Linked DNA regions of Homo sapiens: region 2 is linked to region 1. Evidence: fine-mapped expression QTL. A gene starts in region 1. The other region holds a variant in brackets. All regions are shown on one strand. Distances are from middle to middle. Region 1 holds the start of FRMD3 (FERM domain containing 3). Region 2 overlaps FRMD3 (FERM domain containing 3).

The links.
Region 2: its variant is fine-mapped to the expression of FRMD3 in whole blood (TOPMed, PIP 0.94).

The regions. Positions count from the first base shown.
Region 1 is chr9:83,536,367-83,541,752 of GRCh38, forward strand. It overlaps FRMD3 (FERM domain containing 3), which reads right to left and starts at 2,035. Exons shown (of 14, transcript NM_174938.6): 1 at 1,719-2,035. The coding sequence starts at 1,865. RefSeq lists a silencer at 1-282.
Region 2 is chr9:83,244,825-83,250,210 of GRCh38, forward strand. FRMD3 (FERM domain containing 3) reads right to left here. Exons shown (of 14, transcript NM_174938.6): 14 at 1-3,692. The coding sequence ends at 3,094. The region is part of intron 2 of FRMD3-AS1 (FRMD3 antisense RNA 1); the gene reads left to right. Among named protein-coding and RNA genes, the nearest start is that of FRMD3-AS1, 28 kb to the left of the region's middle. The variant CT/C (reference allele first, on the strand shown) is at 3,053.

The DNA.
Region 1 (5,386 bases):
AACACCAAGTGGTACAGGGCAGAAGAGGGCTGAGAGACAGAGGAGAACTCAACAGCCTCTCTCCCTGACGGCCCCTCCATCATCTACACATTCATTATGGGTTAAAGGACCTGTACACCCACTTTAGGACTTAAAGCAAAGTGCACAGTCCACACTCTCTGGATCACAAGACTATTAGTACATGCCAGATGCTTCTGTGCAACCCTTGTGGCAGTAGAAACACTGCCTATCCTGCTAATCCTTTTATTATTAAGTTTAGCAGTGCTGCTTAGCTCAGAATGAAATTCAAGCTCCCCCAGAAAATTCAATGGGAGCCTACTTTCCTGGGAGATCATGGGGCATCACATTCCTACCTTGACACTTGTCCGGCTGTCAGGTTACAAATTAATTGCAACTGCCCCCAACATGTCACACACTCCCACTAACAAAAATTAAATAAAAATAAAACAGGGAAAGTCCTTTCATTCCTTCATGGTTTGCACAGCCTAGAGGCTGATTCCTACTCTGGGAGATGCTGCCCCACTCACCTCCCACTGACATGGGTGGTGTGCCCTGTATTACACTAAAAAAAAAAAAAAAAAAAAAAAGCTCAGTCCCAGAGCCTCAAGACTCGACTAGGGTAGGTGAGAAAGGAAATCCCAGAGATAAACAGTTAAATAGATTTAGAAGTCAGAAGTTAATTGTGCTGAGCCCTGACACAACCTTTCCTGATTGTGTGCGCACCGAGTGGGGCATCTTTGGGGTCCTGGAAGAGGGGCTCCCACCTGCCTACATATTCACCCACAGCAAATATGCACACGCACGCGCAACCACATGCACACACACACCTTTGCACCTCACACTAGCTCTCCTGACAGCCCAGAGGCACTTACTACCCGAGGACAGGGCTGCCAGCAAAGCTGCCTTCTCCCAAACAACTCGCCTTCTCCTCCAACTTGGGCGACAGTGAATGTCCACCAAGATTCCACGGGGCTCTTTTACCCAGGACCCAGGTTCCTGCAGGGCTCCCCACTTGCTGGCCTCACAATCCCTTTTCCTTTCTCCGAAACACTCAGACTTCACACATTCCTTTCGAGGTAGCTCCAGTCCGGCGCAGCGCGCGCTCCATCCCTCAAGGCTGGCGCCCAGGGCAGCCCGGCCTCTCTCACTCTGGGGAAACTTCGCCACCGCCCCACGCGGAGAACTAAAGACCACCGGCGGAGGGTGAGGGGGACCGACACGGAGCGGAAAGCAGGTTCCGGGACTGAGGGCGTCTCCGGAGCCTGGGCGCGGGAGACAGAAATGAGTGAACCCAGCTGATGCATGCCTTCTCCACGTGGAAGAAGGGAGGAAATACCAGTGGGCGACATGCAGGTGCCCCTCTCAGCCCTCGGAGCTCCCATCTCCTGGCGGAGTAGGGCCCAGAGGGGCCAGAGTCCCTCCGGAGGCAGCTGCCCCGCGCCCCTAGCCCGGGCGCAGTGAGACGCGCGCGCAGGGTGCACGCGAGGGGAAGGAGACTGGGCGCGGATAACGCGTGCCTGGCGCTTGCAGGGCACCATGCCCCTCCATGCCAGGATAAGGCCCCCCACCCTCAGAGGCCTGAGGAATCGAAATCTGGCTTTCTAGCAGTCCCCCAATCCCCTCCGGGAGTGGGTTCCTTGTTCTCGCATGCCCACCGCAAAGGCCCCCCGCCCTGCTCCCGGCGTGTGCCCCGCGCCCTCGCCCGGTTCCACGCGCACCTGGATGTGGCAGGAGATCTCCGAGTCGTCCAGCAGCCGGATGGTGCATCTCATCTCCTGGCTGAGCGATTTGACGCTGGAGCTCCGAAAGTGGATCATTTTCATGGTCCTCCTGCCTCTCGGCACACAGTGGCAGGAGGCGAACATGCACCGCGGCCGTGGGGAGCGAGCGGGAGGCTCAGGGCCGGCGCGGTGCTCGCCTGCGCGGACACACACGCTCGCACGCACTGTCCGGGACACCTGGGCGCGGCTCAGCCCCGGGACATCGGCAGCGTCGGGCGCCTGCGGACACACATGCCCAGCGGCCGGGGCGCGGCGGGCGGGTCCCTCCCTCTGTTCGCTCGCCTCCGCCTCGCCCCCTCCTTTCCCCGCCTCCTTCTGTCGCGCGCGCTCGTGCGCCTCCCTCTGCCCGGGCTCGCTCGCCGAGGACGCCCAGAGCCTGAGACCCCCGGCGGGCTCGCGACGCACTCACTCCCACGCGCGCCGAGCAGCTGAAGGAGGAGGCGGAGGGATGGCTGGCGCGGCTGGCCCGGGTGCCCTGGTGGTGGCCTGCTCAGTCGCAGCCGCCGCTGCGTCAAGCTGGGCCCGACTGCCTTCCTCAGCCTCACCGCCTCCTCCCTCCCCTGGCCGCTGTCGCTCGGGCTCCCGGTTGTGCTCGTCCCGGCCCCGGCTCCCCAACGCGCTCGACAGCGCCCTGCTCTGCTCAGCTCCAGGGACCTGGCGCGGGTAGGGGACGGAGAGCGATCCTGACCCACACCGCCAGGGGGATTCCGCCTCGGGAAAGGATTGCTGGGCCCAGGGCGAGTGACAGAGAGAGTGACAGCCCTGACACGGCTACACCAGGAATATCGCTAATAGTAAAAATCTCTGGTACTCATGGAGATTGTTTAAGCCATTGTTTTATTTAATGCTAGCTAGGACTCAGTCTCTTTCTCCAAAAAAGAGCCTTCCATGTGCAAATCCTCCTTTAAATCTCCCAACATCTTAGTGTGATCTTTGATAGCATACCTTTGACCCGAGCAAGAGGGATAGGTTCCTATCCTACTCCCCTGCTTTACAGACCTCCTCCAGTTCCCGGTTGCTCAGGAATTAAGAGGTCTAATGGCAAAGCGGATGTGCCCCATCCCGTTTTAGTCCAATCTCTGGGTATTGAGGACTCTGGAATTCCCCACGCGCCTCCAGGGTGTTGAAGGTAGGAGGTATCCTGCCTCTCTGTTGTCCCCAAGGTGGCTAGAGCCACTGTGTCAGGTACCGTAGGCCCGAGAGTGGCCAGGAGCAGCTGTTGAGTCAGGGGTATGGAGCTTGAATGTGAGCACTAGAATGTCCAGGAGCTGGGAGAGATGGAAGTCCTCTCACCCTGTTGCTCTTGCCGGAGCAGAACAGGTCATTAGGAAGGAACATTTGTTAGAAGAGGAGGTGTTGACCAGCTGTCAGCTTTTTCAAGGTTTGTGCCTGCATAGAGTCCCCTCATCCAAAGATATGCCCTGTCCTGGGGGTCGAGGAAGAGTGGCACACAAATTTTACCTGCCCTGGACAGTCTGGTGGGCCATATATTCTCTAGGACACCTAGTGGGGTTGGCTAAGGTTTGGGGGAGTCCGCATTGCATTTGGACTTCTCTCTCTGCCTGCTCCTGCCTCCTCTCCCTGTTGATCACTAATAAATACCACACAGGACAAACTCAGTCTCAGTATCTGCTCCTGGAAATTCCAAATTGCAACAATTTGTCAAGATAGGAGGATAGAGAATGTTTTATGTAGCACTCAATAGCTGACTATTGCTTATGAATATTTAGATGATAGTATGGGGCATTCATGTAGGCTCTTGAGCTGGGCCCTTCAAATGTTAGGGCAGATCCTGATGGAGAGGTCAGTATTGAGGGTATGGGAAGATGTGGATTTCATTCTTGGCCCAGCTACTGGCTAATCCTGGGGATCTTTGAAAAGTCTCTCCATTTCTTTTCTCATTTCAAAGGAGAGAACACCTGTTCATCCCACAGGTGGCTGGGAAGCTGGTATGACACCGGGTCAGTGGAGGACATCTTACAGCTGTAATCTGTAAATCCCCATATGCACATATGAGGTGGCAGGGATGGGACCTGCCCCAAGTTGAAAACTGGATCATCTCTGCTAGCCAAAAGAGCAGACAGCCCAGAGATCAAAGAAAAGTCACCAGCCAAACAGTCCATGCTTTTCTTTTAAGACCACACACACACTTGTCCATCCTATTATAGTGACCGTTAGGCTCCAAAAGAGTCATATCAATACCCAAAAATTGTTACCCCAAATTCCAAGGAAGCAAAATAAGACCAACAAGGACAGTAGTGAAAAAGACAGAATAAAGATAACCCAATGTGGGACTGTAAGAAACAGAATTTTGAAGAAATGAGAAGAATCTGAGATTGGTTGTCTGGCCTGATTAGGAATAAAGGCTGAGATTCAACTAGTATGAAAATACAGGCTCTGGAAGCACTTGGCATGACAGCTAGGTAAATTACCAAGTATGGTCACCTGGATTGAACTACCCAATGAAGACAAGGCTCTGGGAAACCAACTGGCCATTGTCAACAATAATAATAATAATATGAAGATTAGGAAGAACTCAAAGAATGAACTCAAGGGATGAGTTTAAAACTGGACCACTGAAAGAAAAGTAGTGATGCACTAAGTCCTAAATTATCAGCTTATGACTTTTAAACAACTGTATTTTTACAAACAACAGAGCTCAAAGAATATCTTGTTAATTGAGCCACAAGGCCAAAACTGAAAAACCAAATTCACAATTTCATCTACAAATCGCCAAATTACAAAGTCAATTGAATTATCGGCCTCACAAGATTTTATAATTATCAGCAGGAAAGAGTGGGAATCTGGGAATAAGAATAGGACTATAAAAGAAAACTTGAATGATTCCTAGTCACTCAAGCCCCCAAACTCCCTTGGCAGCAGAAGCATGCCCTCTTCCTTATGTAACGAGGCTGTTCCTGCTTTGTTTGAAGATCCTCTTCGGAACTCACTTAAGGCAGTTACCTTGGAAAGGGAAGCCGATCTCCTCCCACCCCTCTCCCACCATCTCTGACTACTCTCACTCTTAATACTTGAACCAGATTCAGTCACACCCTAGGAGACCAACTATAAAGTCAACCCCAAGAAGAGAAAGAATTGCAAGATTCTGCTAATTTACATTGAAGAGTATATGTGTGAATAAACCTGAATCTGTCCATTTGAATTCACTTCCCAATGACTCTGGTTTCAATGTACTATCTAAATTGACTAACTGACTTCTGGACTCAGCTAAATGAAGATGAGAAAAAGGAAATTCCCTGGTACATGTACAGGAAAAGATCCAAAGAATCAAGGAGATGGAAATATTGCAGTGTATTTCCACATGTGGCCAGCTTACCTCTCTTTAACTGTGTCCCCTGAGGGGGCATCCACCAAGATTTTCAAAGAATCATTGGCAAAGGAAGGACTGCCATCTTTGAAAAGCACCAAAGTGGCTGTTCTTTGTAGCAAGAGATGGTTGTGAAAGACACTGCAGTCAAAAGGAGCTCCCTGACTTAAATGGGAAGGATGAGAGCCTGGGCTGGCAGAAGACAAATAGTGGTGCATGACTTAACCCTCAGTGCCAGGGAGGGCTTGGTACAATCATAAGCAGTGGTACCCAAGTA
Region 2 (5,386 bases), 290 kb before region 1:
CCACAAAATATATTCCAAATACATAACATTTTACAATATTTTTCAAGCACAGACAAATACATACTTTACTTTACCTACATTGTTTTCATGATCCAACTTGCATTAGCACTAAAGGCAATATTGTGTGTGTATATGTATTTGCCATATGTGTGTGTGTATTATATATATTTATTTATATCCACAAATGTACACTCAGTGGCATTTATGGAAAATTTAACCCTTTCAGGCTGTGGGTTTTACCCACCATAGTATCTGAGAGGGAGAAGAACCAATAATACATCTCAAATTCCTCAATTAGGGCAAAATAAGCACAATTATGCATGAGGGGCATATATGTTGTGTCTATTCAAAGACACACATATATACAGATTCATATATAAACACACATATACCAATAATATGGAATATACATATACTCACACACTTGCTTTAAACTCTATATCTCACTCTATAATATACTGTCCATCTCTGGAAGCAGGCTTTTCCTCATTCGATTCAGGCAACTGGTGACTATCTTCTAACAAAACTTAAATGGATGTTTCTAAAAGGCTCTGATTCTATGCCGAGCAAATGGCATTTCAAGATTCCAGTTTAACTTTTGATGGCTGTTTAAATTCAGCAGACCCTATTCTGTCAACTTCTTCACTTAAAAACATTTCTATTCAACAATGAAGTTTCCACCTAAGAGAAAAGAGATGTTAGCTGGAAATGTTAAAATAATATATTTATTACTCCTTAAGATAAATCTGCATCGTTGGATTACATGTGATATTTATACTATCATATTTTTTAAGTATTTTACAATGGAAAATATATTAGTTCCATAATTTAAAAAATATTATATAATATTATTTTGAAAGACTGAGGGCCAGATGATTTGTCATAGTCAGAACTTTAGAGAAAATTATATGACGCATGATCAGAAGGGGACTAATTTTGTGCAGACTACACTAAAGTTGCCTTATGTCAGAAAGGATGACTTAGAAGTCGTATGAGAAAAGAAGGAGAAAAACACAAATTTCAATTTCAAACCTAGCCATCTGCAAGCTTCCAAAATAAATTGTTGAGGATTCCAATCACAGAAAATATATTCCTAAATCAGTATCAACTTTCAGGTAATAAACAAACAATCTTTATTTAAAAAGCAAAATAAATCACTGAAAGCATATAGGAAAGGAAACCCCTCAAACTTAATGGCAAATATATAGTCATTTGCTCGACTGCAGGCTTCACGAACTGAGTTTCAAAACTCATTTCCAAAATTAAATGTCCAGTGAAGTACTCAGAGCTCCACTGAGTGAGTGGAAATGTATTGCCCAATTTAGAAATCATGCTAATGATAGGGTTGGAATGTCATTAGCTAGAGAGAGCGATTCCAAGTGGGCCCTGTAACTTTGTACATTAGGGCAGTGGAATGTTTTCAATCCACAGAGAAGCTCTATGCTCCATGGCATAAGTTCTAGACTCTTATCTTTCTCCCACATAACACAGTATCAGCAGGTAGTCTGCATGGGAAGGCATCAGTACGTTGCTGATGGTACAATGCTCTAGTACCTTCCTTGATACCATTAAATTGTTGGATTAAATCCTTTCCATCATGGATTTAATGGTATCAAGGAAGGTACTAGAGCACTGGTCCCCTCTACAGTCTGGTTAGGGTCATGTCACTACTTTACCCAGGCTGAACTGGTATGTCATCTCATGAGGCCTCTCCAGTTTCTCTATGGAAGTCAAATTTTAAAACAACTGGGAAAGGAAAGGAGTATAATGACCACCGCAAAACATGATCATGGACATGTATCAAAAAGCCATTCATATTCTCTCTCTCTCTCTCTCTCTCTCTCTCACACACACACACACGCACACTCACATACAAACACATTTTTGAAGTTTCTTCTACAGAATCACAACAAATGGCATGAGGGATCAAAATATTTACCTTAAAGTTTCTCCACTTTTATTTAGATCCACTTAAACATGTTCATGTTAACTCAGACAGCGACTGCACTGCTCTTCACATCATCGAACGCTGGCATCACCATCACTTTCATAAAATAGACCATTCGCCTGTCACCATTTGCCTGCCAGCCTCACCAGAACTCATTTTTGCCACTTTCCATTTCTCCAGTTCCTATCTGCCTTCACTCTTGGGTTAATGTACATTGATATGCAACTGACTAGCACATCTGTTACCTTTTTTCCTTTAAACTCTCACTTTCTTTTTAAAACATCTGCTTCTCCAGCCAAAATATACGGACAGAATACAAATGAAAATAACAAGTCCTCTTGTCCAAATACTTTGAAAAATGGACCACCCTGAGTCCACTTGATGCTCTCAGTTTCTACATCCTCCAGTTCCATCCTCTGTTTTAGCAGCTTACTTACTATAGTGTCTTTCTACCCATTTTCTATCTCCTATGCAGATCATAACAAATTATGGTATTGTTCAGCCAAAAATATTTTTAAAAACAAAGTAGCGCCAAAACATTAAAAAAATTCTGATATACCTTTTGTGCATTAGTCTTACAATCTGTACATGTAAATAACTCCAGGAGGCTTCTTTTTTTTTTTTGCTAAAAATTTACCAAAATAGTTTGAACACATAAAAATATTTTTAAAAAAACAGAACCAAAAACCCAGCATAAATTTAGTTGTATAGGCATTGGTTAGAGGACACTGTTTTCACTAAGGATTATATTCAACAACTTTCTCTTGAGTTGTTACTAAAATTCTGATTCTGAACCTTATAGCTTATAATGGTGCCAACTATTAGAAATGGGAAAATCTAATTCAGTCCAATGTAACATGTATTATGATATAATAGATGAAGGGTATGTCTACACTATAATAAAAAATAAACATATTTTTGGTTATTTAAAGACCATCTTCCTAACCTGTAACTAAAATAACTGTATTTGATTTAAACTTATTTAAGTGCAGTGAATTATGGAAAGCTAACTTAAAGGTTTGAATAATCAATTATGAGTAAGGAACACCTGTTGACAGCCCCGTGACCCTTCAGAACCAGGCATTTGCTGAAAAAAAGAAATCA[CT/C]AGCATTGAATATAGCCCTTAGTCACGTGAGAGATTAACTTCATGAGCAACCCAGCATGTAGAGGATGAGGTGGACTTTCCCAGCCACCCACTCCTTGAGGGGACAGTAGTATTCATAGTGAAACTGCTCAAACTCTGGTGTCTGGCGGATTTCGCATAAGAAGGAGAGATCAATACCTGACTCCAAAAGGAGGAGGAGCAGGGGAAATACAAAGAGCAGCAGTCCCAGGCCCACCACAAGGAGCCTGGAAAAACTCTTGACCAGTGGGTTCACCCGAATATGGCCAGTCAGAATGTCATAGCTCCACGACAAAGCACGGCGAGCCTCCTTCAGCTCCTCTTCTTCAGCAATCAAAAAGGCGTTTTCATCTGCTTCCAGATCCTCAAATGAATCTGTGTCTTCTCTTTCCAACTCAAGCCTAGAAGGACAGTCAAAGAGCATGTCAATCTCATCGTCATCCACAGGGGTGGGGAGCAGGCTGGCACTTGGGTTGTACACTAGTTCAGAGATGGTTAAAGGTTCTTCTTTTATTTTATCTTCCTCTTCACTAGGGGGATCTTCATACTCCCGGGCTGCCTTCACTGGGGAGCTGGAGATCAAGGGAGCAGAAATGTTCTCCTCTTTAGGCAATGGAACACCTGTAAAGAGACATTTTTTTTTCTAAATTTAAAATTTCAGATTTTCCCACAAAAATCTGCAGGAAGAAACAGAAAAACAAAAAACTAATGGGATTCAAGCAATCTATGAAATTATTCTGTGGTATCCTAAGTTGTAACAAAGTCGTATTATAGTAAAAGACCCTGTACCATAAGTTCAAAGGTCAACATGCTAAACTCAAACTAACCAACACTTCTCAAATGGTTGGCAATATTTACAACATTTAGGTGTGCAATTTTGATCTGCAAACCTTGAACCTTGGCCATGTTTGCTTGAATAAAATGACAATAAATTCACTATTATAATTATGAGCACTGTTTTTTTAGAGGTCAACAATATCACCCGATATATTATAGTAAAACAACAGAATCTGTCATTCAATGACAATCTCTTTATTATTCTGATGTATTGCTTTCTAGTCTTCATTCTAGACACAATTTTGTGTTCTAGTTTTATATATTTGCAATCATATTATATACCCAAGCTTAAATCATGCTCCTTGCATTTAAAATTTTAACATAAATATTTTCTATGTTTAAACAAATTCCCATTGGTATTATTTATAAAAGCTGCCAAATTTTTTATTTAGTTATGCAATAAATTAGTTGCCTATTGTCAAACATTTAGATTGCTTTGCAGTTGTAAGGAGAAAATGCTATGAGACATCTTTACATATAAAGCTTTTTTTCCCCTCTTGTTTTAGTTCATTTGCTATAGATAGATGCTAGAAGGGAAATTGCTTAATCAAAGGGTAAGAACTTTTTCTAATGTTTATTGAGAGAGAGGTGTTTCTCAATGCCTCATTTTACTGATGGGAAATCGAGTTACCTATGGTCAGACCTAGGGCTAACTCTGCTAATTTTGAGTCTTGGATCCATAGTGGGAAATAAAGTTAGCATCAAAGAAGTGTCCTCCAGGATGGATCTACCATACAATCAAAATGGCAGCCAGGTGCATTTCGGGAACCATAAACCAGCTTTTAATGAATCTATTATGTGATTTTTCTCTCTTCAAGGTGTACAGGCATAACTTACTGGTTTTAGCATTCAAAAATCAACAGATATTTCATGATAGCTCTAGTCTGATAGCACTGAGAAGTCCAAATGAAAAATACCATAAAAATACAAGAAATATACAAAAGGTCAACAAGCACATGAAAGTATGCTGAACATCATTAATCATTAGGGAAATGCAAGTCAAAACCACAATAAGATGCTACTTTATGCCTACTCAGATGGCAACAGCTTTTTTAAAAACTGAAAATAACAAGTGTTGGTGAGGATGTGAAGACATTAGAACCCTGCATATTGCCAGTGAAACTATAATTGGTTCTGGCCATTGTGAGAAAAAAATTGACAGTTCCTCAAAAAATCAAACATAAAGTTATCAGATGACCCAGCAATACCACTCCCAGGTACATACTCCAAAGACTTAAAAACAGGTACTCAGAACGCTGGAACCCAAGCTGGCCAATTAGAGGCAGCTGTGGTCTGCAGCACTCATGGAGATGAATAAAAAGGGGCTAGTAAATGCAGCACCTTCAAACTGAGATACCCAGGTTCTCGCATTGGGACTGACTGGGCAAACAACTCAACCCACAGAGAATAAAGAAAAGCAGAAGAGGGGGTGATGGCCCACCTGGAAGATGCACAGAAGCAAAGGAGACCCCACCCCG